Homo sapiens: one gene and its partners. The protein of the gene in region 2 interacts with the protein of the main gene of each other region in a pairwise test. Each region holds a gene or a part of one and is shown on either strand. Other genes may lie near its edges.

Evidence for each region.
Region 1: the proteins of MFF (region 2) and SLC7A8 interact in binary tests that used the Homo sapiens proteins (3 or more experiments, as listed by UniProt).
Region 3: the proteins of MFF (region 2) and SHISAL1 interact in binary tests that used the Homo sapiens proteins (3 or more experiments, as listed by UniProt).
Region 4: the proteins of MFF (region 2) and UNC50 interact in binary tests that used the Homo sapiens proteins (3 or more experiments, as listed by UniProt).

What each region holds. Positions count from the first base shown.
Region 1 is NC_000014.9:23,180,422-23,188,502, forward strand, and holds the start of SLC7A8 (large neutral amino acids transporter small subunit 2), read right to left. Parts: upstream 3,240-8,081; 5' UTR 2,494-3,239; coding exon 2,343-2,493; intron 1-2,342. UniProt on the Homo sapiens protein: Associates with SLC3A2 to form a functional heterodimeric complex that translocates small and large neutral amino acids with broad specificity and a stoichiometry of 1:1.
Region 2 is NC_000002.12:227,341,716-227,349,469, reverse strand, and holds part of MFF (mitochondrial fission factor), read right to left. Parts: intron 6,726-7,754; coding exon of another isoform or gene 6,651-6,725; intron 2,245-6,650; coding exon 2,086-2,244; intron 1-2,085. UniProt on the Homo sapiens protein: Plays a role in mitochondrial and peroxisomal fission. Promotes the recruitment and association of the fission mediator dynamin-related protein 1 (DNM1L) to the mitochondrial surface.
Region 3 is NC_000022.11:44,295,828-44,303,581, reverse strand, and holds part of SHISAL1 (protein shisa-like-1 precursor), read left to right. Parts: intron 1-2,604; 5' UTR 2,605-2,636; coding exon 2,637-2,703; intron 2,704-6,696; coding exon 6,697-6,910; intron 6,911-7,754.
Region 4 is NC_000002.12:98,603,747-98,611,886, forward strand, and holds the start of UNC50 (protein unc-50 homolog), read left to right. Parts: upstream 1-4,842; 5' UTR 4,843-4,980; intron 4,981-5,896; exon of another isoform or gene 5,897-5,962; coding exon of another isoform or gene 5,963-6,013; coding exon 6,014-6,293; intron 6,294-7,028; coding exon 7,029-7,149; intron 7,150-8,140. Other genes in the region: COA5 (cytochrome c oxidase assembly factor 5), read right to left, coding at 362-445, 4,561-4,659. UniProt on the Homo sapiens protein: Involved in the cell surface expression of neuronal nicotinic receptors. Binds RNA.

The DNA of each region.
Region 1 (8,081 bases), on a different chromosome or scaffold from region 2:
TTTTGTCCCCTGTTATCATCTTAAAGGGGAAATTTGTTTCTAGCTTAAGTTGGGGTAGAATAGTGCCTATTAACTCTACAAGGATTCTCATGTTTTGCAAAAATATCCCAATTTCTCTGAAATCACATATTTGGAATCTCTTTTCATCACAGAACACCAGAATTGCCATTCTAGTTACTGTAATGCCACCATGGGGAGCTTTGAGATTATTCTCCCATTGAAGTACCATCCATAAGGTTGTGGACAAATCAGTAGTAACATATACCCACAGAAATTGTACTTATTATACCTGAACACTCCCATTTCTTCATAATCTTAGAAAAAGATGTTAAAGGAAGAGACAAAAACATCAGTATATAGGAAAATACCCTCTACCCTTGAATACCTGAACCTGGAGATCGAGACCATCCTGGTTAACACGGTGAAACCCCGTCTCTACTAAAAATACAAAAAAAATTAGCAGGGCGTGGTGGTGGGCGCCTGTAGTCCCAGCTACTCGGGAGGCTGAGGCAGGAGAATGGCGTGAACCCGGGAGGCGGAGCTTGCAGTGAGCCGAGATCGCGCCACTGCACTCCAGCCTGGGCCACAGAGCGAGACTCCGTCTGAACAAAAAAAAAGAATACCTGAACCTATATTGGGAAGGGCGAGCCAGGCTGAGGCAGGAAGGATGTTTAATTGTGCTTGTGTGCCTGTGGGCGTGCGCATCTGTGTATAAGTCAGAACCTTCCTAGAGGGGGAAAATGCTTAATTCTGTCAGTCAAATTGGTGAACGGGCTATTTATAGACCTTAAACTGGCATGTGCTATACATACTGAATACTTGGCTGTTCTCATTTCTTTTGAACAATTGAGATAAAGTAAAGGAGAGGCAAAAAAAATGTCATGAGAAAAAGTAAAGAGAGATTCAGATCATGACTACAATTTTTCTTATAACATTATCTTTCTTATAACTGTAGATGGCCTGGAAAACTTCCCAGAGTCAGGGAATCACATAAAATAGGATTCCAGGGTGTAGGAGGAGTTGGTGGGGGTGGGGGGGGGATGGGATTTCATTTTAGAGACTGAAGAGAGCTTGGTCACTGAAGTTCTGGGTGTAGAGGTGAAGAGGATTATCTGAATACTGCACTGATTTTATTTGATTTCAAGAGTGCTCTCCAGTGTCACTATTGCTCAGATGCCAAAATATCTCTGAGCTATTGCATAGAACATGGCGTCAGCCAGAGAAACTGGTTCAGGGGCACCAGGACACAACGAGCTCTCATAAAGGAACTCTGGAGAGATGACAAAGAAGCATATCTATGCCTGACCGTCCTGCACTCCTTTTTCTGGGAAGAAAGTAAAGCCCCCTACCAAAGATAGCAGAACAATCTCTCACTCTGAAGTGAGGGCAGGAATAGTGAGCTATTGCCTGCCATCCATCTCCAAGGCTTCTCTGGAAAGAGGATGTGCTGTCTAGAGACGAAGCTGTATTTGGGACTCCTGCCCTGCAAAGTACATTCAGGGGGTTTGAGTGGCCTGCACTGGCACTCTTGGGGCCACCCAGGTTCCCCACCTTCAGCACCTCCCAGCTAGGACACATATTTTACCCATCAGTTCCTCCTCAACTCCATATTCTACACATTCTAGTTACTCCTGATTCCCTCTGAGAGCTTCACCGGGTCCTCCGTGGCTGTTAAGAAACAGGTGGACCCCACCAGGCAACTGGAGAAACTGCAAACTCTCCACTTACCGAGAGGCACAATCTGTCCCCTCTTTTCTTCCATAACTTCCCCATCTGTGAAATGGGAATAACAGCCCTGTCACAGCTACTTCACACAGTAAAAGTGCTGCATAAGGTGGAAAACGCTAAAATAAAAAGGCAGGGCATTGCTCTTGCTATTTTTAATACCTATCCCATAGTTTCATTTAACATAAAACTGCAAAATAGCTACCAAATATACCTTAAAAGCCCATCCCCAGCCTGGGAATAATAGCTGCATACAAACTTGTTCAGGTCCCTCAGTCCCTCCTTAAACCTATTGAACTAGAACCTCCAAGTGTCGAGACCAGGACCTGTATTTTTAAGGAGTTCCCAGGCAATGCTAATCATCAGCCGGGTTTCTGACCACGATTTGCTCCATTCTATGAACACTGGGCAGAATCTTTGCCTGGTTTGGAGGAAGAGATGTATGATGTATTTCCTATGCCTCTCAAACTTGACCAGTGGAGGTGAGTTACAGCTCAGGTGACTGACAATCCTTTTCTAAGGAATAGGAAGAACAATAATGCTTTCGAAGGGTTAAGATCTCACAGGAGGACCACCAGAGGGGAGAGGAGGGGTCCGCGGGAAGGAATGGAACTCACCTACGATGATACCACAGGCACTGACCAATCCGATCTCTTTCTTCAGGGCTACTCCGCCCCCTCCGGAACCAGCCTCGGGGCTGGCGTCCGACTCGCCCCCACCTGGGTGTTTCTTTTCGGTGTTGTTTCGGTGCCTGGCTCCTTCTTCCATCCTTCTCAGTAGGATTGCAACCTCAAAAGCTGCCTCCCTTTCTAAATGCGTATTCGTGTAAATATATTGGGAGAGAGCTTTGAATTAGAACGTCCTTTTCCGAAATAGGAACCACTGCTACTCTCTAAAAAAGGCAAGCAGATAAAAGAGAACACGAAAAATATTCCTACTCCGCATTCACACTTTCTGGTCACTCGCGTTTACAAACAAGAAAAGTGTTGCTAAAAAAAAAAAAAAAAAAAAAGGCCAGGGGAGACATACATTTAAATATAAAAATAGAACTGTGCCAGCGACTCCGGCTGGAATTCTGCTGAAAGGGATGTGTCTTCAGAAACCAGGATGGTTCTGCTCTGTGCACCAGGCAGTGGCTTATTCAGAAAGTGAGCCTGGATTTCCCTTCACCTCTCCCCCTAATAAAACAGGAGACTGCCTTTACCTCCCCTTAGTTTTTTCTTTTATGATGAAGACAAAAGTAGTTTTCATTAACGGTAGGAAAAAAGAGCAATCCTCAGGTACTTTCTTCTCTTCTAGAAAAACAAACTGTGAACCTGACGGTGTTGCTCTAGATCTGGTTTCCACCTGCTTTGGGTTTCTTTTCCCTTCCCCGTCTTCTGCTTCCGCCTTTCCCAGGTGTCCTCTTCTTTCTCGCTGGTCTTCGTGCCCTTGTTTTCCTCTTTTCGATCCCCGTTCTACTGCACAGCCGGCCCCATCCCTCTGGTTTCGGGAGAGTGGCTTCTCCACACACTAACGTGCTTCTCTTTAGCGAGGGGTTTTATTCGCCCGCCGAGGCTCCGCCCCTGCCTCCTCTGCTCCCCTCCATCCTCAGTCCCGTCTCCTCCCTCCTCTGCAATTTAAGTATTAGCACAAAGCCCCCAAACAGCACTGAGAAAATGGACTAAGTTATTTCTTTTTGCAATCGTCTCTCGCTTTCTCCATCTTTCTCCTTGCAACCAAGTGGAAGTAAACTCCTTCCACGTCAACTGTTCCGGGAGAGCTCATTAGCTAGTATAATGTTACAGGTCATACAGCATCTGTGAGCTTTATAAATCAGGGAACAGTTGTGCCGATACTTTTAATGCCATCAGAAATAAACTAGCCAATGTATTAAAAAATATTTAGGACTGGATCCTGTATTTGAGAATACAGGAGAGAACGTTGAAAGGACATCATCTTCGAGTTTCCTAAAAATAGGGGGAATCGACGGGTGGGGGAGGGAAATGGAAGGAATTAACAATGGGAAAAAGGTTCTTTTAGCGTAATTGTGAGCTACGAAGAGTACAGAGGAAACAAAATCGCCAGGCGCGGTGGCTCACGCCTGTAATCCCAGCGCTTTGGGAGGCTGACAGGGGAGGATCACGTGAGCCCAGGAGTCTGAGACCAGCCTGTGCAACAGAGCGAGACCCCGTCTACTAAAAATTTTAAAATTAGCCGGGTGCAGTGGTGCAGGCCTGTAGTCTTAGCTACTCAGGAGGCTGAGGCTGGAGGATTGCTTGAGCTCAGGAGGTCAAGGCTGCAGTGAGCTATGATGACGCCACTGCACTCCAGCCTGGGAGGTAGAGCAAGACCCTGTCTCAAAAACAAAACAAAACAAAAAGCCAGAAAAACCACATGCACATACAAAAAGATAAAAAACAAAATCACCAGGTAGCCTTGTTGTTCACAGCTCTTATTTAGGACTGGCTGAAACATGAAAAAAAATGACTCAAACCCTGATCCTGCAACTTCTAATATTTTTGCATTTATAAACTATTTGAAAAGCACACATGGGGAATTATCAGTATATCGCTGATCATGAAACATACTTGTTGATGTTAGAATAACTAGCTTATTACCATATCGAAATGATGCCTCCACTTTCTTGAAGAATTTCACTCAGAAACTGCTGCCTTAAGGTGAGAGCAACAATGTCTATTTATAATTGTAAATTATTTCGAAAAAACAGCATGAAGCAATATAGTGGACAACACTATAAGTCTAAAATAAAGTTATTTTTAGCCTTATTAAATATATTATGCAAAATTATTTAATTTTAAAGTGGGCCTAAAAAATTAAGTTCCCCCAAACTGACCCCTAACTACAAAAATTTGGCCTCACTTTCTGGAAAATGTTCCAAAAGATTTTGGGTTTTAAGGAAAATAAATACTTAATTCCTTAAAATGAGGTTTGTTGAGCTATCATAGCAAAAGCTTTTTCAAATGGGGTAAAGTCCAATCAGCAGTCATCTGCCCCCTTGATCACTCAGCAAGTATTAAGAGGTTTCAAAGGTTGGGAGGAACTTCCTCTCCTCCTTTTGCTAGTTCAAGACACAGCAAATTGAAAGACTCAGCAAAAAAAAAACAACAAACAACAACAAAAAAAACCAGACAAGGCAGGGAATATATAGCACGAAACTCCATGGGAGGGAATGAGTCATGGGAAATGAAAAAATGTCGAATTTGCCTCTAGCCTTTCCTGACAACCTTAGAAAGCACTGAGGAAAAATTTGATAGATTCATTTGTATACATTCAGATTTGAAGACTTCTGCTCCGATTTCAACATCACCATATAAAACAAATAATGTTTCTGCTTCTTAAACGTGAGTTCTTTCAGTAATATTTGGTAGTTCTAATTTATATGATGCAGACTTAATGTGGGATAAAACATGAATGTGATGAATTTGAGGTCTCTTGCTAAAACCAGTGCAAACTGATAACGATATGGTAAGCTTTAGCCCTCTCAAATTATGAACTAAGAAGCTAAGGGGGTTATGGGATCAAATACGTTCTTGGAATACAGCGGTACTAGGTGCACACGTTGGAAAGGAAGAGTTGCTGAAGATTAGTATTTCTATTTCTTTAGCACTTGGAATTTATAAGTGGCTTATTACCATTGATTACTGGTGCGATGTAATATCTAGGAAAGGGGCTGGGCACGGTGGCTCATGCCTGTAATTCCAGCACTTTGGGAGGCCGAAGCAGGTGGAGTGCTTGAACTCAGGAGTTCAAGACCAGACTGGGCAATGTGGTGAAACCCCATCTCTACAAAAAATACAAAAATTAGCTGGGTGTGGTGGCTCACGCCTGTAATCCCAGCTACTCAGGAGGCTGAGGTGGGAGGATCGTGTGAGCCATGGAGGTTGAGGCTGCAATGAGCCAAGATCGCACCACTGCACTCCAGCCTGGGTGGCAAAGTGAGACCCTGTCTTTAAAAAAACCAAACCAAAACAAACAAACAAACAAAGCTAGGAAAGGAATCTCCCCACTTTCAAAGGGAGCATTATTTATATTAAGTGCCTCTCTGTAGGTTGGAATCTTTTTGTGACATAAACTCTTAAGTGTGTCAAAATTCCAGGTGACTAACATTGAACACAAGAGAGAAAGAAAAGCCTTGGTGTAATATGTTGACAAAAATCTGTAAAAAATTACAAACTAATGTTTATTAAATTTTGAGCATTTTTTTTTTTTTTGAGAAGGAGTCTCGCTCTGCTGCTCTGGCCGGACTGCAGTGGTGCGATCTCGGCTCTCGGCTCACTGCAACCTCTGGCTCCTAGGTTCAAGTGATTCTCCTGCCTCAGCCTCCTAAGTAGCTGGGATTACAGGCACCTGCCACCATGCCTGGCTAATTTTTGTGTTTTTAGTAGAGACGGGGTTTCACCCTGTTGGTTAGGCTCGTCTTGAACTCCTAACCTTGTGATCCACCCGCCTCGGCCTCCCAAAGTGCTGGGATTACTCTATTCTGCATTTGCCTTTATATTTTTATTCTATTCTCTACGTTTAAATAGTGCTTTATAGCCCACAAATGGTTTTCTGAACAATATCTCAATTTTTTTCCTCCTCATGTAGTATCTTGGGCAGACGAGGCAGTTATCTTAAAGATTTTAAAAATTAGAAACCTGAGGCTTAAAGAAATATTTTACCTGAGGTAAAAAACAAGACAGTCTATTTGAGGGCAAATGGGAGATTGATAGTTTACACTGAGCACTTTTTCAGGATGCTATAGCTACTGGTCAAAGCCTCAATTTCTTTCACCTGAGGGAAACTCTGTGTTTTTGCTTTGGTGTCTTAACTGTGCCTTTTAGAGACTCACCTTGATCCTAACACTTATCTGCTCAGTGAGACCCACAGGACTTCACCTGGGCCCCCCCAACATTTGTCACCCCCTTCGCACAGTCCTCAGTGTGGCCATATCCCAAGTACGTAGTACAATTCTGTTTCCAATATCGGAGCCACTGTTTCAGCTGTTTTGCGTGCTTCAGATCAGAAGAAATTGATCCCTTTAACTAGGGAAAATTATGGATGAAAGGCCGTTTTCTTACAAATATGGATTTAGAAAGAGAAAGGCTGTGCGTAGCTGACACCTACTGGACAGAAAAGGTTATGGCTTGGGACATGCTGCTTGTGATAGTTAAAACACAAACACACACAACCCCCACGCAGTCATGTTCTAATATTCCCCTACTCCCCCCTTTTTTAGAGACAAGGTCTCACTCTGTCACCCAGGCTGGAGTGTAGTGGCACAATCACAGCTCACAGCAGCCTCAAACTCCTGGGCTCAAGTGATCCTCCCGCCTCAGCCTCCCGAGTAGCTGGGACTACAGATGTGCGCCACCACACCCGGGTTAATATTCCCTTTCAGAGACAAGTTAGACGTGTCTGCTAATGCAAAGGAATAGAGCACAAAGCTCATGCACTCCATTCCTGATTTTTTTTTCTAGATCCAATAGACAGCACTTTATTCTTGCTTTTTGTAACAGAGCTGGGAAGTCTGAGGTTACCAACAAAGGACCCAAATCTCTCCCTGGAGTCAACTCACAGTCCATGCGCTCACTCCATCCTTCTTCTCGTAACTATGTGCCCCATATCTATGTGCTTTAGTTTAAAGCAGAAGGAAACCCTGCTTTAAATTAAAGCCAACTTTCTTCCCAGAGTCCCAGGGATCACTGCCTATGGTCGATTAGATGGGGCCTTCCTGAGCCAGTAGTTTTAGATGCCTTTACTTCATTAGAAAATGAAAAGCAGATGAAAATTAATGAGAAAAGAAGAAAAAATTAAAAAAAGAAAAGGCCAAAATAGGTCAGAAAGAAAGGAAGATGAAATGAGGAGACTCGGTCAGTGATTAAGCCCTTTTTAGTGTATGCTCTGTTTGCCTTTTGGGCATATTCATAAGTTCAAAGGAAGTTGTGTCTTCTAGGGTTTATGCAGTCCTGAGAATTTGGATGCAGCTGACCCTGCTTTGTTATGATGGTTAATTAATTCAGCTCTTCTGGAGATAATGATGAATCCTTGCTCTGACACCAGAGACAAAAATTCCAACAGATTACTCCTCTGTCTGCTGCACTTGGTGGGATTCCATGGAGCCAGCCCAGCACTAGTGGGAAAGAAATAAAGAGGCACTGCCTGTGGCAGGCCAGATCTCCGCATTTTCTTGATTCTTTTGCTGGGTCCAATCTGTCATGGGGCCTTAACAGTCTTCTTTCTCAGGATTTAAGTGACTCCAGCTTTGAATACTTAAATATGGAAACTTCCCCTTCTTAATTGGTTTTCATTATGTTTGACAAAGATTAGGGTTTTTTTTTTTTTTTTTAGAGATAGGGTCTCACTCTCACTCT
Region 2 (7,754 bases):
ATGAGAAAAGAGAATTCCTTCCCAGAAAAGGGATTTTAGAGTTATCAATTCATCACAATGTAAAAAAGTGAAATAAAATTTCACTGAAAGTCCAAAAATATTTTTCATTATTAAAAAAATACAAAGTTTATACTAATACGATTTTTGATTTTATACATTTGACTCTGAGGCACAATTTTTTTTCCATTATGGAGGAAAAAATCCATATTTTTATAAGTTCCACATTATTGCAATGAACTGTGTATATGCTGGTGAGGGGGAATTGGGACAAATAATTTTTTTTCTTTTTTTACTTTTTGGGACATATAATTTTAATGTACTGTGACTCTGCCATCTAGCTATTATTACTTTTTATACAAGATTTGGAAATATCTCTCTCATTCAGATATTTTAAATGTAATAGCATTTGATATGATATACTCGCACCTAATAATCTGGTCTCCACTAAGGACTTATTGTAATTAAAAAGTTAAACAAGTTAGCTGATGGACAATAAATCTGTTTTAAGGAGGGAAGAGAAAACAGGCCCTTGTAAATATTAGCTCTTAAGTGCCAGCTACTTTATATGCAATATCGTTTGAAAGATCTCCTACCATACTAAATAAAGAATTGGAGGCCATTATCCCTATATTATAATTAAAGGTGGGGGAGGGGAGAAGATCCTCACAAGAATTCACAAAGCTAGATATTATTACCCTTCCTCTCTATTTCTCAACAGATGAGAAAAGTGAGGCCAAAAGAAGCTAAGCAATTTGTTCAAGGCCATCATGCAGCTATGTAGTGGGGTGGATCCGGGTTAATTCTAACTGACTCCCTGAATCCATGCTTTTTGTTCTGAACCTTGCTGCTTCTTACAGCTTCCCAATAGTCCAAGAATGGCTTTGAAGCTTCAAAAAGCATAAAAGGGAGTCTAAACCCTTGGGGAAAAACAAACAAAACAGATCTATACATATACATGTATATATAATTCCCCTCCCCACACCCTCATGCCATGAGCTTTCTTTTTAAGCTCTTCTTAGTGCAGCTTTCAGTCCTTGGGCCCAAATGCATAGCACTAGGTCAACTCTGGGAAGGCTCAGAAAGGCCCTGGATTCAACAATGATAAGTAGCATGGACAGGTGCTTACGAAGTATGGTGACATACCCAGGGCCTGTGTGAGGACTACAAGCACTCAACAAGAAAAAGTTTGTCCAGTGCAAGTCAGAAGTCATATTCGTTCCTAAGGTAAGAAACAGGATTTATTAGAAGGGATAGCTTAATTTATTGTGAAATTCTTCAAAATGCAAAAAGTAACAATTAAATAATCATGAAAATTCAAACCCTGACTACCAGAAGCCACTAGATAAATGTTCAGAGTTGAAATGAAATTGACTCTATCTTTCCCACACTATGCCAAAAAAGCTCCCTGAATTTCCTTTAAAACATTATGTAGTAATAAAGCAAGGACAAAAAGTACTTGAGATAACTGCAAAAAAATTATTTGTATGAATAAGTCTAAGTATACTACTGATGATTTTACCTGGAGATGTTCAAAAGTGAGATAAATTATCAACACTGAAAAATATCAGTATTATCAAAAAGATGATAGCACCTGGAATTTTCAAAACAAGCCTAGAAATCCGTAGCTGAGAGGAAAGGAAAAAAGTGTCCTGGCAGCTGCGCTGACATCACCTCCTCAGATTTGCTTTATTAATCCAATCATATCAGCAGCATAAATGATTAAATCAAAAGACTAACGAGGACTAGTAAACTTCAGTCTAACACTCAATCCAATGGGACGGGGCCCCTTGGCATATCCCTAAGTGGAATCAAGTACTTAGAGTAGGCTAGAAAAGCCTTTGAAAAAAATCACTACACTTTCTATGTATACTCTCCCTGACAGAAGGAAAGCTAATGTAATCTTGTGAAATGTGAATTTTGGACAATAATTTCAAATTAAAAGAAAGTAAAGCAAGCTGTTTCAAATCATTGCATCTTAGAAAGAGGCTAGAAGGTAAAAACAGAAAAGAAAGACACCACAGTCCACTAAACAAGAGGCCAAAAAATATGCAATAAAGCTGTCAAGAGTCACGGATGGCCAATCACCTGCGATTTTCATCCAGCACATCCAAGATCTGCTGGTATGCCCTACGAGTAGAAGACTGGATAAGCGACAAAATGCCACGAGCAGAGGAAAGATTAGCTCCATCTTCAGGTAACATATGGGGAGGACAGACCCGAGCCTGTTGTGGCGATGGTGTCACACTGTTTACACAAGCACAGCAAATGAAGAGAAAAACACTCAAGTCAGATTTTTATAAAACTTCAGCTGAGCAGTCTTTATCTTAATTTTCTTAGTGTTCTTGCCCCTTTCCCACCCTTCACTCTCCCCACAAGAAAACAGTCAAAGAATAAATATTTTGAATTGTTTCCAAAAACTAGCTACAAGGCAGCACTTATAACTTTGTAACCCTAAACATCAAAATAAATAAACTGAATATGAAAGAACTGTAGAGAGGGAAGAGAACTACAGCAATGAATGTGTTCAACCCCTCCCATGGAGAAGCAGCATTCTTTACTTCGTGTTTATATTCCAATTCAATAAACCAACTTCTAAGAAACAACACTGCTGTCGACTTATGGATGATTAGAAGAGTAGGACAGGGAATTCTCACATACAGATGTCAAAGTTTAAACACATGAATCAAAAGTGTGATTCCATAAAAACACCATTTCAAACACTTCGTAAAGCCAATGAAGTTGAAGTTTATGACGAATAAATGACACTGATTTAAGGATGAATTAGTCTTAGAAAATGGTAACAAAGCATTTTGATTGTTTAATTATAGTAAGCATATGTTCTCTAGTTAAATGACTAAAGCATAAAAATATTCCCAAATCTGTGAATACAGCAAAAGAAGGCAAGGACACTTCTTAAATTATCAATGGCTGATAACCATTTCTGGGCTTCTTAGTGACAATAATCTTAATCGTTCTTTCATGTGTGGGCTGAGATTCACAATTTCATTTGACTCCCCTGCCAGTGCTTTCTGAAAGCTGAATGAACCAATTCTTATGGTTCTAACCTAAACTCTTAAGATCTGTGTCAGTATTTTCAGGGAGCTGTTTAACATTACAGTATGATTATCTATTGTGAGGTATTTAACTGACATACAGACTACGACAGTGGAATGAGGGCTCAACATTCTCAACGTCAAGGCAAAACTAACATCAGGCTAAATGTCATCCAATGTGTATTACATCTGAAAGAATAAAAACAAAGCAGATGGTAAACAATTGAAAAAAGAAAATCTCTTATTTTGACTGTGTAATCTTTTCTAACAGCATGTATTTGTTTGGAAACTACAAAATAAGTGGGATAATTTTTGACAGGATAGTTATAGTCATCTGATATTATTCCCAGAGTCCCAGAAAATTAAAAAACAAAATCTCCTCCACAGCTTTATGAATAACTTTGAATGGCTTGGTGATCCAAAGACAGAAGTACCATAATATGAAAACCATGTTTTTCAAAGATTACTTAAAAGATCTAAGCCAAATCTTAACGTATAAAGCAACTATCTATCAAGCCTGATTCACTATAGGATTTAGGTCAAATTTGGTGTCAAGATAAACTCAAATTTTCAGATGCAGTCTCATGACCAGTGACCTTAAATGTCCGTCCAGAGACTGGCAATCTCTGGGAATACATATAAGCCAACATTATCTACTGATCCATGGTAATTGGCAAAACCCATACCAGGCATTCCAGAAGGGTAAAAACAAATAAACAAACAAACAAACAAATAAAAAAAACATCCTATTTGTGAAACAAAACTATATGTTAGTCTTACACTCAGAATTCTCTTTAGGCAGCACTGGGAAAACCTGAAGCTCTTACTGCTTGTGAGAATTAAAAAATGGTCAGTTCTACATCAACATAAACAAACAATCCATCTTACACTCTTCTTGATAGAGCAGCCAGCGTTAACTGCCTAAATTCACTCAAGCAAGTTTTAAAGGACAAATCCGTACTTTGCCTTTGCATTTGGGGGTTTAAATTGAACACTTTGTGTATCATTCTGTACTGATAAATAAACCAGCTATATACTAACATATTAAAGGCTACAATAATCAATATTTAGAATTATAATCTTGGGGCAACAGTATGAATGAACTAAACTCAAATCCATGAAAAAAACTTAATGGATGTTGGCCCATTAAAAATTAAAATAAAAGAAGGGTTACTTCCTCTAAGAGAAATCCTTTTGCCAGAAACAAACAATAATGAATTGTTTATTTAAACTGTAAAAGTACAAGTATTTTCTGTCCATATATAGGAAATGAGGAGGTCATCTTATAAAATAGTCAAACATAAACTTACTTCAGACTAACTGCAAAGAGTTCCTAAGATGGAATGCAGAAGGTTGGATTCTAAAACAATCTATAAGATCTCTCTCAATTCTAAGATTTTACGATCACATGAAATTGGAATACAATGAGAAAAAACCTTACATGATCCTCAGTTATAATTTAACATGAAAAATACTTATGTAGAAAGATAAAAGATGAAATTAAGTTTTTATCAATACTAGTAAAGATATTTATTTCCTCAAAAACCAGCATCAAAAACATAACTTGAGGTTCTAGTTGTTTCTCAAAAGAAATTAACATTTCAAAGATTAGTAAAAAAATTAGCTTTTCATTCATGTGTATGGCAATCCTCCATAAACAAAAAACGAAATCGGGAGTATTTTTTTTTTTTAATTGATGACTACTTTTGCCAGTGTTGTATAGATTAAATGTCCTTGTTTGGTAACATTTAATTCCATCCACAGATGAAATAAATCACCATTAAGACTGCCAAAACTACATTAGTAATTAGAGGCAATAAATAATTTAGCAATTGTCTTTCCTTTTTAAAACTTTAAGCAGTCTTGTTGGTATTTTTTACAAATAAATGTAAAAACAAAAAAGAATAAGCTCCATTTTAGCAATCAGTTTGACAGGAGCTAAAATGTACTCCACAGCTATCAACTGTGGAGGGAAACAGCGCTTTCATCTCCGTCCACTCATGGACCCAACCAAGGTTTAATGACTTCCTGTTTCTGTAGTTTTGACAAGTGAACTATTGTGGAAAATAAAAAAGTAAACATACTGCAAAGGCACTGAGAAGATTAAGTAAATGGCATTATATATATATTAGTAATTTAATAAAAATGCAATTTGATAAACTGATTCCAGTGATATTATAAAATAGCAAAGTCTCAACATTACCTTTTTAAAAGAAAAGATTAGAAAATTTTGAAGAAAGCACTGATGTTTACCATGCTTCATTAGTAATAGCTCTACCTCATGCTTACATGAAATCTTATCACATAAGAGTTACATAAACAACACCAGGGCTGGGCACAGTGGCTCATGCCTATAATCCCAGCACTTTGGGAGGCCAAGGTGGGCAGAGCACTTGAGGTCAGGAGTTCAAGACCAGCCTGGCCAATATGATGAAACCCTGTCTCTACTAAAAATACAAAAGTTAGCCGGGCATGGTGGCATGTGCCTGCAGTCTCAACTACTTGGGAGACTGGGGCAGGAGAATCGCTTGAACCCGGGAGGTGGAGGTTGCAGTGAACTGAGATCACGCCATTGCACTCCAGCCTGGAAGTCACAGTGAGACTCCGTCTCAAAAGAAAAAAACAAAACAACCAAAAAAACACCAGCCAATTGTCAGAATTAAAATTTAAATAAAAATTTACTTGGCATAACTATATCATTATTAAAAGTAAGTTCAAAATCAAGTACCTCTTTGAGTTTTCATAGGAATAATGTTTCCCAACCTGTGAATTTAACCTCTTCGGTGAGGTATCACTCTTCCAAAAAATAGGGTAAAACAATAAAGAGAAAAAATTTTCACTAAAACACAAATATATTAATTTCTCTTGGAATTGTAAATACAGAGGAAATTTTAATATATTGCCACTATCTATGGCAACTGAATAGTTCCTGGAAGCATAATAATAGAACCAGAATAAGAGGAAAACTGTTGGCTTTCGGTGCAGTTTCTTCTGTTGCTTAAGAAGTGTATTAGCTATTGAATACCTGTATTATATACCAAAACGTTGTGCTCCATGAGTGAGTCATTCTCATACCTTATTTTGTCACATGGAAAGAGTGGGTTTAATAATAGCAAAAAAGTGCTTCCAAGCATCGTTTTCATCTATGGGATTATAAAATAAATGACAAACCACACTTATGCTCCATTCTCCTTCAGAAACAAGATAGAAGAAGAAAAGACAGTGCGCTGAAATTAAAAAAAAAAAAATTGGGATCACTGCACCAGGTGACGTTGAATCTGTTGAGAACTATTATACCAACCAAAGCAAAATAAACAAAAAAGGATGCTTGGTCCTTATGTGCATATTATATTTCAGGTTCCTTTCACCAACACATGCAAAATCATATACAACTTCCTTAGATGGTCTAGTTTTTTTTTTTCCTTAATAAAGCATATAATGACAGTTTGAGAAATCCTGAAACAGAGGTACTAAAAAGCCAAACAGGAAGATAATTAGGATAGCATACGTCAATTACCTGGTGAATAGATTAGTATTAACATAATCCTTCAAAATCAAAACAACTACTTGTCAAAAGCAGAGCAGATAAAATCTTACGTGTACTCCGGTGCAGAAATCGGTGCCTGGAACCTTGAAATTTTATTTCTTGGGGCAGAATCTGATCTGTGCCACCTTAAATAATAATTATGCTTCTTTTACATATTCAGCTTTTATAACACAAAGAAAAAGCTAGATCTGATTTTACTGTTTAGAATTCACTTTTGCGCTAATAGCTGACCACAATCTTATTGCCTCTTCGAAGTAATTAAGAAAACAAAGGCTAGTGCTCCTGCTCTCATACCCGTTCGCACTTTTATTCTTAAAGCCATGGAATAAAATAAAGTGGAGACAGGCAAAGTTTCATGCACTATGACGCACAACAATTTCATGTTACAAAGAAAACACTAAAGTAGGTAAAGATAGTAAGAGTTTAATAATTATTTTAATAGAGGTATTATATCAATTGTTTTTTCCTCACTACGTTAACAACACTGAATAATATGTTCATTATACAAAATTCTAAAGTTAGTAAGATGTAGATTCTTAAAGATAAATTGTAAATTATAAAATTAACAACAGTAGGAAAAGAAAGGGCAAAGTTACATTATTAACAAAATACATACATAACATGGTAATATACTTTACAACCATAATGAAAAATATGGTTAAGCAATGTTAAGTGTTTCACTGTGAAAATGTATAAAGATTCATTACTTTTACTATCAAAAATGAGATTTTCAGTTTTACTAAAAATTTAGAAAATGTCATTAAAGCAACTTAAAGAAAAAAAAAGAAAATCAAGTATTAGTTAACACTGTAAATCTTTTCTGTTATGAGGAACTTATGTTATTGAGTAAATACAAAAACATCTATATCATCTACTCTAAATTATACTTCACTGGACTGGTTTTCGTACATAATAAAGGGGTTTCCTTTCTCTTCAGCTGAATGCAGCTATAAATAATATATACTTCGGGAGAAAAAATAAGAGTGGTGCTATATTACAATAATCTTGTTTTTATTAATATAAAATGTCAAAGTAGCTAAGAACCTAAATAGTAAGCCACATCTTTATAAAGTGGAAAAGCTTACTAGAAATCTTTGTTGCCTTAGGATAATGTTACAAAAAGAAAATAATTAAAGCTCTTGAGTGTATGTTTA
Region 3 (7,754 bases), on a different chromosome or scaffold from region 2:
AGGGTTGGGTCCTTATGAGGCTGTAGGGGTGAATCTGTTCCTGGGGGTTCGCTGGCAATCTTTGGCATTCCTTGGCTTATATGTGCATCACCCCAACCTCTGCCTCCATCTTCCCATAGTGTTTTCCCTGCACAGGTGTTTCTGTGTCCAAATTGTCCCTTTTTATAAAAAACACCAGTCTTCTTGGATTAGGGAGCCACCCTACTTCACCCTGATGACCTCATCTTAACTAATGACCTCCGTGATGACCCTATTTCCAAACAGCGTCAACCTTCTGAGTCCTGGGAGTTAGGACTTCAACATGTGAATTTGGGGGGAACACAATTCACATACCATAACAGGGTGCCACCAGGGAGAGGATGGGGTACAGTACCTCTTCTGGCCCAGAGCCGGGCACATAGTAGATGCTCAGCAAATCAACTCCCATCTCTCATCTCTACTGCTCCCACCAGATACACGCAGGCAACAGGGGCTCTGGGAGGACGACGCTGTTACACAGAGCACTTAGATGGCCTGTCCTAGCCTCCGTTTCCAACTCCTATGGGAGACAGGTTGATCATAGTCTAAGTAATCTAGTCCCCTCAGGGCCCAAAGCCCTGTCTCTAGTGGCCCTGCTGATACCCCAACCCCAGGGTCTTTGCCCCTGCTGCCTCCTCACTGCACCCACCCCAGGGCCTTTGCCCCTGCTGCCTCCTCACCGCACCCACCCCAGGGCCTTTGCCCCTGCTGCCTCCTCACCGCACCCACCCCAGGGCCTTTGCCCCTGCTGCCTCCTCACCGCACCCACCCCAGGGCCTTTGCCCCTGCTGCCTCCTCACCGCACCCACCCCAGGGCCTTTGCCCCTGCTGCCTCCTCACCGCACCCACCCCAGGGCCTTTGCCCCTGCTGCCTCCTCACCGCACCCACCCCAGGGCCTTTGCCCCTGCTGCCTCCTCACCGCACCCACCCCAGGGCCTTTGCCCCTGCTATCCCTCCGTGTGCAGCACTCTTCTTCCAGACAGCCACGTGGCCTCTCCCGCCTCACTCAAAGGTCTGCTCAAATGTCACCTTCTCAGAGAGGCCCTCCTTACCACCCTTCTAAAGCAGCTCCCCCATCACCATTCTCGGCACCACTCCCCAGACACGCCTTGTTTTATTTTCCCTCGTAACATTAAAAATTTTTTTTTATTGTGGCAAAATATACATTACAGAGAACTTACTACTTTAACTCCTCCCCGCTCCTTTTTTTTTTTTTTTTTTTTGAGACGGAGTCTCGCTCTGTCGCCCAGGCTGGAGTGCAATGGCGTGATCTCAGCTCACTGCAGCCTCCACCTCCCAGGTTCAAGCTGTTCTCCCGCCTTGGCCTCCCAAGTAGCTGGGACTACAGACATGCACCACCATGCCCGGCTAATTTTGTATTTTTCGTAGAGACAGCGTTTGTCCAGGTTGGTCAGGCTGGTCTCGAACTCCTGACCTCAGGTGATCCGCCAGCCTCGGCCTCCCAAAGTGCTGGGATTACAACGCCTGGGTGGTGTGGGCCACTGTACTTTAACCCTTTTTAAGTGGACAGTCAGTGGCATTGAGTAAATTCAGTGTTGTGCGACCCTCCCCACCATGCACCTCCAGAACTTTTTCATCTTCCCAAACTGCAACTCTGCACCCATGAAACATTCACTCCCCATCCCCCTCCCCCAAGCCCCTGGCATCTTCCATTCTGCTTTTGACCCGATGACAAATCTTCTGTGAATGGGACTCCTCTAGGGACCCCATGTAGGTGGAATCTTGCAGTCTGTGTTCTTTTGTGCCTTGCCTAGTTCATAGGCATAATTCCCTCTGGGATCCCCCTGCTGTAGCATGTATCATAGTTTCCCTCCTGTTTTGGGAGAGTAATGTGCATTGTGTGACGGGCCACCTTTTGTTGATCCATCCATCCCTCGATGGGCACATGGGTTGCCTCTACCTTTTGACTAAGGTGAAGGATGCTGCTGGGAACATGGGTGTGTGTACGTATCTGTTCGAGTCCCTGTTTTCTGCGCCTTGGGATATGTACTCAGAAGCTCGGAGCATTTTAAACATTCATTTGTTTGCGTGTTGTCAGCCTTCCTGAGTAGAACACAGGGGCTCCAGGGAGGAACTGCTTCTATTTCATGCACTGCTGTGTGCCTTGTGCCTCGGAAGCTGCCTGGCTCCGTGCATACTTGTGGAGGGGTTCATGGAAGTCACCATGAAACCCTCCACCTTAGCGACACAGCAGGGGACCTGGGTCCTGTAAGCTCCTCGAGGTGGCCGGGCCAGCCCGGGCATCCTCACTCCTGCAGCTCTGGTGCCTGGCCACCAGCCTCTGCCGGCCGGTCATTTCCACCACCTGAGCCATCCGTCCTCCTTTGATTAAGTCTCATTTTGCCATGAAAAGAAAAGGAGGTGACAGTTGGCTTGTGGGGGAAGGTCATTCATTCCAGAAAGGAAATTGGATGGCGGCATCTCCATCGTCCGCACCCGGCCCCTGCTCCCGACAAACTCGCTCTCCTGCCCGCTGCCCGCCTGCCCGTCCCCCGCTGTGGGCAGGAAAGCCAGTGTCAGGCGAGACAGCCCACACCCAGCCTCTCGTGGCTCTCATTGAACAGGCAGCTCTGGACGGATCAATGCAAGCCAGACGATGACCAGTTGTGGCCAGCAGTCCTTGAACGTGCTCGCCGTCCTCTTCTCATTGCTGTTTTCTGCAGGTAAAACCTCCGTGGATGCTGGGGGCGGGGGCGGCACGTGGGGGTGTGGGCTCTTCCTGAGATTCGTGCTGGCCCATCTGGGGTTCTGGGGGCACACAGAGGCTTGCCTTTTGTCCTCCACCTTACTGGCACCCCTCTGGTGAGCAGCTGATGTTGGTTGCTGTGTGGTTGGTCTCTGTCTGTCTCTGTCTCTCTGTCTCTATCTCTACTGTGCACCGCAGCCCTGGGACTTCCCATGGGAGCTCAGCTGGCTGCCAGGACCCTCGGGAGAAGCCCTGACTCACATTCTCTCCTTTGCCCCTGCGAGACAAGGTTAGGCAGTGTCCTAGTCATCCCATTTTATAGATGAGGAAACTGAGGCTTGGAGAGGGACCTGACTTGCCTAGGACAAGGCAGTTAGCGGATTCTAGCCCGACCAGCCTCCTGGGCTGTCCCTGGGATCCCAGTTGAGGTCGCAGGTGGGCTCCTGCTCTCCCAGTTACAAGGATGAGCACAAACTAAGTCCTCTGCTCCTCCCAGCTAGAGCTGAGAGCCCAAGTTCAAGGGCAGCCCTGCTCCCCAGCCAGGGCCTGCTCCCAGCAAGGAGCCCCCTCTGGCTCTCTGGCTTCCTCTCCCTCTGTCTTTCTGTGTCTCTGGGTCTCTGTCTCTCTGTCTTTCTGTCTGTCTCTGTCTCTCTCTGTGTGTCTGTGTCTGTCTCTGTATCTCTATCTCTCTCTGTCTCTGTCTCTCTCTGTTTCTGTCTCTCTGTCTCTCTGTCTCTGTCTCTCTGTCTGTCTCTCTGTGTCTGTCTCTGTCTGTCTTTCTGTGTCTCTGTGTCTGTCTCTGTCTCTCTGTCTCTTTCTGTGTCTCTGTGTCTGTCTCTGTCTCTCTGTTTCTGTCCTCTGCCTCTTTGTCTTTGTCTCTGTCTATGTCTCTGTGTCTGTCTCTGTCTGTCTCTCTGTGTCTCTGTGTCTGTCTCTGTTTCTGTCTCTGTCTCTGTCTCTCTGTCTCTGTCTTTCTGTGTCTCTGTGTCTGTCTCTGTCTCTCTGTCTCTGTCTATCTCTCTGTGTCTCTGTCTCTGTCTATGTCTGCCTCTGTCTTTTTCTATCTCTGTCTTTGTGTTTCTGTCTCTGTCTCTGTCTTTCTCTGACTCTGTCTTTCTGTCTCTGTCTCCATCTCTCTGTCTCTGTCTCTGTGTCTCTCTGTACCTCCTCATGCCCGCATGCTCTAACAGGGTCACTGACACTGGCCTGGTGGTTTTCAGCCCCTGCCCCTTTGCTGGGGGCAGCTCAGAGGGAGGCTATGAGGATGTCTGGGGGTGCTTGGCAGGGCTCCCCGGACAGCAAAGCCAAAGCCACGCCCAGGCCAGGGGTCTGGGGGCTACCCAGCTGCTCTCCCCACCCCAGATGCTTCCCATGCTTTGGCTCACCTGGTCCTCACCATCCCTGGAGGACGGACCCACTCAGCCCATTTTACAAATGAGGAAGGTGAGACACTCAGAAGGAAAGCGGCCTGCCCGAGGTCACCCCTTCAGGGGAGGGGCCAGCCAGTGAATCAGGGCCATCCAGATGCAGGAGTTACGTGGAGCTGTGCACACAGGGGTGCGTTCATGGTTGAGGCTTCGGGGCCCGAAATGCGGCTCTCTCCTTTGCGTCCCTGCTCTGCTGGGGCCTCCTAACAGAGTGTCCCTCGGCCTGGAGTCACGCCATGCCCCAGAGCAGAAGCCCACGGATGCTGCCCTTTACTGCCCTTTACAGCCTCTAGTGCTCGTAGGGCCCCTAGTGCACACACAGCCTCTTTCTCTAGGTGGGGGCTGCGCCTTGCTGTTTACAAAACGCTCCTGGGAGCCCCCAGCCCGCCTTGGAGACCATGAGTCTTTCATCAGTGAGGGGAGGAGGCCAGAGAGGTCACGATGGCCCAGGCAGCCTCATGCCAGGACTCCCACCCGGTTGTCCCGGCTCCCAGCCCAGGGCTCTGTTGGCTCCGGGAAGGCAGCCGGGGAGGCTTCATCGTTACCAAATGGCCAAAGCCCATGGCGCTGACCGCCCAGTGGTGGCCGGGTGAGCTGGGTGCTGGTAATGGGCAGGACCCTTCCACATCCCCCAACCTCGCCGGGCCTGCCCTCCCCGGCCCCCCATCTCTGCATATCAGGCTCCTCCCAGTCCCTTGAGGCCCAGCTCAAAGGCTGCCTCCCCATGCTGCCCTACCGCTCTGTCCCTTCCCTCCCTGAGTCCTGTGGTAGCCTCACGGGCTGGTCCCAGGGCCTAAGCTAGACTTTCTGCCCAGCAGCGTGAGTGTGCCTGGTTCCTCCCCAGCTGCCCACGCACTGAGCGTGAGCAGGGCCTCCTCACTGACCTGGGCAGTGACCCAGACAGTGACCGGAACTGGCTAGCTGCCTCTGCCCCTTGCCGCTAGGCCAGTGGGCCCCAAACCCAAGCCCATCAGCATCCCCTGGAGGGCTTGCCAGGACAGACGGCGGGGCCTACCCCGGAGCTTCTGATTCAGAAGCCCAGTGGCCTGAGAATCTGCATTTCTGACAAGCCCTCCGGGGATGCCCTCGAGGCCGATCAGGGGCCACACTTTGGGAACTGCTGCTCTGAGCCACAGTTTTCTCCCCTGTACGATGGGAATAAATGAGATGGGGTGAGACAGCTGTCTACTTGGGGCTCTCTAATAACCTCTACATCCCCAGAGGGGGTATTCTTCTTTCTTAAGGTTGAGGAAGAGAAGGGGGCCTGGAGAGCTCCCCTGGTTCCCCAAAAGCTGAGACCTTTCTCTCGCAGTGGTCATGCCCATCCCCACAGAAGAGGGTGCTGTCTGTGGGGGAAGGGGTGTGGAATTTCATGCCCCCCGCCGGAGGCAGCCTCAGCACCCCAGCACATGAAGGCCGCCTGCCCATCTTCCAGCCCAGCCCAGCCCAGCTGGGACTCCCCTGCAGCAGCCCCGGGTGGGTAGGTGGGGAGCTGTGTGGGCTGCAGTCTAATAACCTCTCAGCAGACACAGAGCTTTCAACGAGCTGGAGGAACTCCTGCAAAGCCACTGCCTTTGTGGTTAAAGGAATGTATTCAGCCAGCGAAGCCCCTTTTCAGTGATACAAATTAGATACAGCGATCTCTTTTATGAAGATACTAATTAAGCCTGAGAGAGCGGGCTTTAGGTTTTTTCCATTGTTATATTTGTTCAGACTTTCAGTCCTGTTTATCACCATCGGCACGACTCGTAAATACCATCCTGGGTTTGCAGTAGCATTGGTGGCTGAATAGGGGCCTCCGCCCCTGAGCAGAGTGGTGGGAGGGTTCCAGGCCAAGGCAGAGCTACCACCGTGAGGTGGGGGTGACTGAGGCAGGCCCTTGGGGACCTTGGGGCCTAGGGTACTAGTTTAGTAGAAACCAAGGAACGAAGGGTCTGCTGTTTTTGACCCAAGAGGTACCCAAGAGGTCCTTGCACCTATGCCAGCCACCACCCGGGCCAGCCTGGGCTGAGCAGCAGGTCCACCACTGCCCACCTGGGAACAAAGAGCTAGTGATACAAGACTGGAGAGGGCCCCAAACTTTGAATCCAGGCCTGAGTTCCATTCCTGTCCCTCCAACACTTATCAGCTCGGGCAAGTCACCTTAGGTCTCTGAGCCTCAGTTTCTCCATCTGTAAAGTGGGATCTCAGACTTGCTTGGCTGTGTGAGTTAAATGAGATGGGTCTGTGAAGCATACAGTAGGTGCTCAGTTAAGGCTGATTTCCTAATTGAGTGACTGCTGCATGTCAAGCATGTTCACCGAAGCAGGAGAGCCAGCCCTGCCCTCCAGGACCAGCCAGTCTGGGTGACACAGAGAATGTAACCAGGGCTGGGAGGCTCGGGGTAATGGGAACCCAGAGGTGAGGCTCACAGTGGACCACAAAGGCATCCAGGGGAGGGAAGAAGCAGGCAGGACCTGAGAAGAGGCCGGCCAGTCCCCCTGCCTCTTGGCACCCGTGGACTGGTGAGGGACCCCTCTGAGCCTGGTGACTCTGTCTTCCAGTCTTGTCTGCACATTTCCGGGTCTGTGAACCATACACAGACCACAAAGGCCGCTACCACTTTGGCTTCCACTGCCCCCGGCTCTCGGACAACAAGACCTTCATCCTCTGTTGTCACCATAACAACACGGTCTTCAAATACTGCTGCAACGAGACGGAGTTCCAGGCGGTGATGCAGGCGAACCTCACGGCCAGCTCCGAGGGTTACATGCACAAGTGAGTGCCACTCTGGGGGTGCAACCCCACTGCCTCGGGCCCCAGGCAAGGGGCCTGCCTCCCAAAATCGCGTCCCCTAGGGAGGCGGTTGGGTAACCGCTATAAGGTTGGGTGGGCCTGGAAGGAGTCTGGGAGAGTCTTTGGATGACCAGGGTTTTCGGCCCATTGTGCCTTCTAAGTTTCAGCTTTCTCATCTGAGAAATGGACACAGAGGCCAGGCGCGGTAGCTCACACCTGTAATCCTAGCACTTTGGGAGAATGAGGTGGGTGGATCACCTGAGGTCAGGAGTTCGAGACCAGCCTAGCCAACATGGTGAAACCCCATCTCTACTAAAAATACAAAAATTAGCAGGATGTGGTGGCAGGTGCCTGTAATCCCAGCTACTCAGGAGGCTGAGGCAGGAGAATCACTTGAACCCAGGAGGCAGAGGGTTGCAGTGAGCAGAGATGGCGCCATTGCACTCCAGCCTGGGTGACAAGAGTGAAACTCCGTCTCAAAAAAGAAAAGAAAAGAGGGAGGGAGGGAGGGAGGGACACAGAATACTCACTTTGCAGGGTTACCATAGAAGCTAAGTGAGGTTAAGGATGTGGAAAGCTTTCAGGCGTAGAAGGCGCCTGGGCCTGTAATCCACCGGGTTCCTTCATTCATTCTTCATTCATTTAACAAATACTGATTGACACCATTGACCCAGAGATTAATCCCATGCAGTTCTTTTCCTTAAGGTGATTAAAATACATTGGGATCAGGGCCTGATGGAGGGGACCACAGGTGTGGAGAAAGAGAGAGTTTGCTGTTAGAAAAGCAATGGGAACACGCTAAGTAGAGTCATGGAGTTTCAAAACA
Region 4 (8,140 bases), about 130 Mb from region 2:
AAATGTATACACCTTGGAGCTCCACATTATATGTTTGTATACAATTGCCAACTGATCTGAACTCGAGTGGCCAACATCAACTTTTACCCGTATATACCTGCCGAGACTTCATTCTCACACTTTCAGAAATGCATGAAGTTCAGCAGCTGTAGTTAGCACGGTGACAGAAGAACATAACAATGAGCTGTGGGTTTTTATGAACGCTACCTAACGTTAACTCACTGGAGGAAGAAATATTATCTATGTAATTTTTTCCAAACCATATCACTGCAACTTACCTATAACTATTAAGTCATTCATATATTTAACCTCCCTATAGCTAATTTTTAGCATAGGCTTTTAAAAATCTTTAACCACTTACCACTGATCTTTTACACTCAAAAAATGCGTACTTCAAAGAGTTGCAGTATCCTTCCTTCAAACACTGCCGAGGTGATTTTCCTTCCTATGACAGACACATAAAACAATATAAACACCTTGGAAATTTTCTCACAAAGTACAAAATAATTGTCCTTCTGAAAATAGTCCTTTTTAAAAGTGTTAAAGGAGGAAAATAGAAAGTTATGTAGGAAATAGTTCTTAATTCATTTGGGCTATTGGTGCCTAAAGAATGAAAAAAAAATTGTAAAGTAACTTGGGAACTTTAAGGACACTGTTGAATTCTTGAAAACACTGGTTTCTATTGGATACTTTTCCTTAAACTGTTTATATAAAAATCTAGAAAGGGTTATCTTCATTTCCTTATGGGTGAAATGTGTGAACTGGGTACCCTAAAATCAGAATATTTTTAGTGTTGGCACGAAACACTTCACAAAGATATTAACAAGGCAGGCTGGAATACTACTTAAATAGAAACATGTGGCCCATTCATGCACCAGAAAAAATATAACCCAAAGCTCATCTGCTCTGCATAATCAGGGATTTTCCCTCAAGCAGATTTTGACTCTACAGCCGCATCACTGCAGCCACTCCCCAGAACCTTTATGTTGCAAGTGCCAGGCACGCTCTGCCAGTTTTTCCTATGAAAAGCTACAGGGTACTATGTCTGTGGTATTCCTGTTCCCCAGGAGTCTTGGCCACCTTCCAGTCTGTATGTCTGCCTGGGTCCTAGATATCAAATGTCATCTACCTCAGTGACTCTCAAAAGTGGATAAGAGTAGCAGGTTTCCTTCCTCTCCAAACTCTGCAATTCTGCTGGTGGGATGTGTTGCCCACATGAACGACGTGGAGGCAGACAAAAGAAGACTAACCATATAAAAGGTTATAACTATAGTTTATAAGCTGATGCCTCTTCAAACTGTATCTAAGATGCTACCTTTTTCAAAAGCTTTCAACCTATATTGTCAACTGCCTGGGGTAAAGATCCATCTAGATACACTAAAGCTAAGAGACAGTCATTCGTTATCCACTCCACCCCAAATAACAGACTGCTAGCTGTCTGCTCTTCCTTTTTATCCAGCATATGGCTGGGTGAGATCTCCTAGACGCCCTTGCATCTAGCTGTGGTCCTGTGACTAAGTTCTAGCCACTGGAATGTGTGGGAAACAGGTGTAGAACTTCTGGGTTGGTCCTTAAAGAGGCTTGCCCCTTTCCTCACTTCACTCCATAAGGTTGCCGGGCCTGATGATGTGGAAGCAAACCAGTCTTGGACCATGAATATGAGAGTAACACCCTACTTGCTATATTTTCCTATTTTCACAGCACAGAGTCACAAGATCAACAGTGTCTGCGTTCATGGAAGACTGAGGGAAATGACTAGGCCCTGATTATAGGCACAAGGACAAAAGAGAAAGTTCTCTATCTCGTTTAAGCCACTATTATTCTGGGTCTCTGTAACATGCACTTGAATCTATATTCTAACTAATACACTCCCAAGCTTTTTTGCCTTCTGAGGTCAAGATCAGTCAGTGCTCTCAAACATGGCTGTGCCCAAAACCAACCTAGGAAAGAAACTTTTAACTTATTGGGGGTAGGGTGAGGGCAGCAGTGGAATCTGTACTTTTAAAAAGCCACACCACTTCTAGGTGATTCTGATGAAGAGTCAGTGGATCTGGAAGCTGTTAGTGGAGACGAAGATACCCTATGATGAGTGAAGTTCCTCTGGCAGAGTTTCATTGTCCTGATCATCCAGGAGTCATTAAATCCTAAGAAGTCTCTTCAAGAGATGCCTTTTGAATCTGCTTTTTCCCTGCTTTCCTCCAGCCCCACTGGAATTTACATCCTTACCATTACCCTGAGTTTCTCTGAGGCCCTCTAACTCCTTGACAGTCTCCCAAAGCAGCACCTAGAACTAAATACATGTTTATGTTGAATTCCTCCCTAGAGCGAGGTGCTGCAGGTTTCAGGTGGGTTAAAGACTGGCAAGAAGAGACTACAGCACCAACCTGCCATAGGATCAGATTAACCTTTTTATTCAAGAACTTAAGAAATCAAAAATTTCCATCATAATTAAGGTTGCCACACAGAGCAAGCACAGACCTCAGCAGAGCTTTCCTTGGTCTTTCAGAGTCCCCAGTGAGGAGCAGTGGGCAGTAGCTGCCAACAGATTGTAGGAGATTGTTCTGGACCTGCAAACCTCCTCACTATTGCCCTTTTACAATCCAGCTGAAGTCAGCATTCAGAATGAATTTAACACAAACTGTATACGAACTTCCATCTAAAGAACTGCTTATAAGCATCACGTTTTCTGGCTGACCAAACTGAGCACTGGTAAGGCCACATATTCAATGGCGGGAAAAGCAAAGTCTGTACCAGCTGTCCCAACCATAATCTCTGCCTACAGCATTCTAGCCAAACAGCTCCGCTTTCTATACTGGAGAGACCATGTTCCATTCATCAGTATTTGTTCCCTGAACTGGAGCCTGGCGCTCCGTACATGTTTGCTGTATCAACCGCTGCAGAAAGCCAGCTTGGAATTCTCTGTGCTGCTGCTATTGTCCTCCACTTGGAGTTTCTTTCCTCAGTCCTACTCAGTGTACTTTCTTCCCTTGACTACTCATCAACATGGCCTTCCGATGCTGAACGTCTGGATAAAATCCAGTCTCCTCACTCTGACACACATACAGGCCTTCACACCTGGCTGCAACCTTCCCCTCAGGCCTTCTGTCGCATTCCCCTATGGCAGGACACTAGCTCCTCTGCGCCCTCCCACATCTCCCTGCCTCTGCACTTGCTGTTCTTTCAGATTTTCCCCACAACCACAACAGTTCCCACTCCTTTACTTGATAAACTACTACTCAACTTTTAAGACTCAGCTCAAATGTCATCTCAGAAGATTCCAAATTCTGAAGCAAAATCAGACGCTCTCCCTTGGGCTAACGCATTTTTCTCCTCAAGATCTAGTCATTAAACACATGTTTAATAAATGCTTACAGTCTTATGGCAGGAATTTAGACCCTTAGATGTCTATTTCTCCCATGACACCAAGCTTACATGGGTAGTGACTGTTACTGATTCATCTTCGTTATCACCAGTGTCAGGTACCATGCCTGCCACTTAAGAGGCATTTACCAGGAGCTGGCTGAACGGCAGCACCAGTGAGTAAGGGGCAGAAGGGACACAGCCCTGGACAGGGGAGCCTGAAAACAACGGTACTTCAGTTTCCTCATTTATATAAGGAAGTTGGGCGAGATAATCTCTTAAATTTATAATAACTCAAGTTTTACTAGACATTGGGAGGCGAGAATGGCTGACTGCTAAAATCAGTGAACCAAACAAATTGTGACTCGGTAGAAACACTGGTACAGTCTTACAGTGGATGTCCATTTGGGGGTAATCTTTTCTCTGAAATAACAGCAACTTTCTGAAACTACATCCCCCAATGCAAAGACAATTGCACACAATTGAATGCCCTCTCGTCGGGCCTCTGCAATTGGAAAAGGCACTTGTGCTTTACTTGAGCTCTAATCCAGAACTCAGGTCCACTGTGAACCTCACTACATGTTTCAGTGCATTCCAAGAGGGTGCTGAGGAGACCTGTGTCTGTAGCCGGGGAGTGAAGGAAGAGTGTAGGGGAAGCAAGATACGAAATCGTGAAAATATGGAGTTGCCTTATTTTTACAACTTAACATCCAAGAATGCAGAGAACTGTAACTCAGAAACAAATTCACATCAACACAAGTCAAACTGAGCACACATTGTCACAACTGAACAGGCAGGAGACACTACTGGCCAGGGCAGTGTACCAGGTTTACGCAACTCTCTGGAATCATTAATTCTACAGATTATCATTTCTAGGCAGGCAAGAAACCTGGCTTATTCTCCTTTATGTCTCCAAAGCCTAGTAGAGTGCTAGCATTCAATAAAGGCTTCGTGAACTGAAATGGGTTAACCTTTACAAAAACCCGACAGGGTGCGTTTATCGTTATCTCCGATTTAACCCCACAGGGAACTGGGGCTCCGACAGCTCAGTGGATCTGCGCACGTTCAGTGAGCCCGAGCTGTGACCTACGCCCGGGATGGTTAACTCCAACCGCCGCCGCGGGCGACCCGCTGCCCTCCGCCGAGCCAGGCCTGCCTGGGACAGGGGTCGTCACCACCGGGAGCGCCCGGCCGCGCTACCTGGACCACACAGTCCGACTGCAGCAGACACGCGCCCAGGTCCTCCTTCAGGCCCGCGCACGCGCCGCCCTGCGGCTTGTCCTCATAATACTTAGGCATGACGGCGCTTCCCCTCCGATGCGGACGCGACTTTCTCCCACCGCAACACTTGCAACCGGGTCGGGAGCGAGCGAGGCCCCAGTCTCAGGGGACCGGAAGCCAGCGGCAACAACTTCCGGCGGGCCGCGGCGGTAGGGCCGAGGACTACGGGGGCCGAGAGGTGGCGCGTCCGCGGCGGAAGTCGGTTCCCGTGACGCGGCGCGCCCCAAGGGCCGGCTCCGTTGAGGGAAGGGAAGCCCGCCCGGTGGCGGCTGGGGTCGGCTGCTGGGAGGAGGTGGTGGGCTGGTTCGGACGTGGGTCGAGGCTGTAGCAGGACTCCAGGTGAGGCCTGAGGACCACTCTGCCCTCCCGCGGCCCGGGCTCGCGCCGGGGGCCATTTAATCCCGACAGCTTGCGGCCTGACGTCGCTGCGGCCTGGCAGTGACCATGTCGGCGTCCGGCCCCTCGGCCGGCGATAGAGTTGCGGCTAAAATGAAAGGACGCCCAGTTACATTTGCATCGTAGATAAAGAAAGAGCATTTAGTATAAGCATGTCCGAAATGTTGCGTGGGATGTAGGCATACTAAAACCTTATTCGTGGCCTGTCTGAAATCCAAATGGAGCTGGGTATTCTGTGTTTTTATTTGCTAAATCTGGCAGCCGTACCCGCGGCCCCGGGCAGGGAGGGAGCAGCTGGGCTCGGCCAGACCCTGCCGGCGTCTGGGGGGCCTGCGAAGTGGAGGGGAGACGGGCAGCCGGGCAGTGGCCGGCGTTCCCCGGAGCTCGGACCGGTTGGATTGGACTCCGACGCTACCGCTCCCTCTGCTGAACTATTCCGGATGTAAAACACTAGGGATCGGAGTTTTTCTTGGTTTTTTAATCTCATTCTAGTGACCGAGAAGCTTGCTGGCAGTGCGCTGATGGATCTGTGTGAATAGGCCATTTATTTGACCTCTTCAGTAACACTGTTCTAACCGGCTGAAACTGCTTTCTTAGGCATTTTCTTAAAAGCTTGGTGGTTAAGAGCACGGAATTTCGAGTCAGATTTCCAATCTTGGCTCTATCACTATCCTCGGAGTCATGGGGCAGTCACATCATCCCTGTCTCTGTAATGGTAGCTGCCCCTGGATAAGTGTTATTAGGTGATTCAGAAGGGTGGGCTGTTGCCCTTGCCTGAGGTTGCAGTCTGCGGTTCCCAAGCCCCAAGACCCGCCTCAGAACTAACTGCATTTGCTTTTGACTCCTGGCCTTTCTCTAGGGTTGGGAAGAACATGGAAAGTGACCTCCCTGCCAAATAACTCAGAAGAGGAGTGTCGGTAGCCAAATGTTTCTTCAGAATACGTGTAAAAGAAATGTTTTTCTTCCATCTAGGAAGATGTTACCGAGTACTTCAGTGAATTCCTTAGTGCAGGGGAACGGAGTCTTGAATTCCAGGGATGCGGCAAGACACACAGCCGGAGCGAAACGCTACAAATATCTGAGAAGGCTTTTCCGCTTTCGGCAAATGGACTTTGAATTTGCTGCCTGGCAGATGCTCTACCTGTTCACATCCCCACAGAGAGTTTACAGAAATTTTCATTATCGAAAACAGACGAAGGACCAGTGGGCCAGAGATGACCCTGCTTTCTTGGTCCTGTTAAGTATCTGGCTCTGTGGTAAGTGTGTTTATCTGAGATAGAATTGAACGCTGAGTGTTTCTGATTAGATTTTTTGTTATAAATGTGTTGTGGGTCAGAATCTGGAAATATTGGAAACTATTTCTCCTTTTTACTGAAGCCTCAAAAAATCTCACAGGAAAGAAAGTTGTAGTCTTGGTTCTACAGGTCCCAAGCAGATGCCAGAGTAAACTGTTACCCTAGGACATTGAAAAGCAGGGGACAAGATTCACTCCATATCTTTTTAAGTACTTGAATCGGTACCCAAATGTCAGCTGACTGTGAATAGGAATATGAAACTGGAAATTGCATTTCACAGGCAAATCCACAGTGAGAATTGTAAAGGTATTGATGGGAACCTGAGAAACTGAAGTTCTCCAATTCCATAATGCAAGGGTCTCATTTACCTGTAGGGTGTTGAAGTGGGTAAGATATTGAAGTTTATAGGGTGTTTTGCACCTTAACTGGACTTAAACTATGTTAGTGCCTTCTCTACACTGGCGTTCTAAATACTGAGGCCACCGTGGTGAATCAGCCTGGCAAGGGCCCACCTCAGGAAACTTCAACTCTCTCAGTGGCCACGCTGTGTCCCAAGGTAGTGTTCACACATCTTGGGAGTTTTGTTTAAAGACCTGTCTCTCCCACTAGCCTGGGCATCTGGAGGGCAAGGGATGTGTCCTGTATTTCCAGAACCTAGCAGAGTCCCTAAATGAATCTTGTGAATCTTTCTTTCAGTGTCCACTATAGGATTTGGCTTTGTGCTGGACATGGGATTCTTTGAGACAATAAAGCTTCTCCTTTGGGTTGTACTCATAGATTGTGTAGGCGTTGGTCTTCTGATAGCAACTTTAATGTGGTAAGTACCATAACTTTGGTTTTTCAGATACTGCTGTAGCATCTCCATTTGTTTGCTTCAGAGGTACAATAGCAGCAGATGGAAATTGAAACCCAGGTAGAGTTACTAAATGATCAATTTTGACTGCCAAGATTATTACAATTTTCCCTCCTGTGTTGCCACCTATATCAGAAAATACTATAAAGGCTGGTTTATAATATTGTCAAATGTAGCAAATAATTGAAATAATTATGTTTTGAACCCAAAATATCTGAGATCGGTCTCAATTTAGAAAGTTTAGTTTGCCAAAGTTAAGGACATGCCTGTGACACAGCCTTAGGAGGTCCTGATGACATGTGCCCAAGGTGGTCGGGGCACAGCTTGCTCTTATACATTTTAGGGAGACTTGAGACATCAGTCAATATGTGTAAAATGTACATTGTTTTAATCCAGAAAGTGGGGAAAGGCAGGTTACAGTTAGATAAGAGACAAATGGTTGCATTCTTTTGAGTCTTTGATCTGCCTTTCACTGAATACACAATTTACTTGTGAGAGGCAGGTACAGGAATAGTCATTTATGCCTTAATCTGGCTCAGTGAGTCTGCATTTTTACATAAACAATGGGGCAGAGGAAGCAATCAGATAAACACTTGTCTCAGGTGAGTAGAAGGAGGACTTTCTGTCCCACACCTGTAAAGATAAGCTATCTTAGGAATAAAATAGGAGGCAAGTTTGCCTGACACAGTTACCAGCTTGACTTTTCCCTTTGGCTTAGTGATTTTGGGGTCCCGAGATTTATTTTCTGCATACTAACAAAATGCCTGGTTTTGCAAAAATATTACAGATTTAGCCAGTTCTGCTTAAGTTGTCTGGATGATAGCATGGTTTTCTGCATTTGTCAATAGAGACCACTTCTTGATATTCATTGTGTTTAAATCCATTTAGATCTAAAGGGTTATTTTGTGGAGTCTTACTTTGAATCTTTGCATTAAATGAAGTATACTTGAAAAAG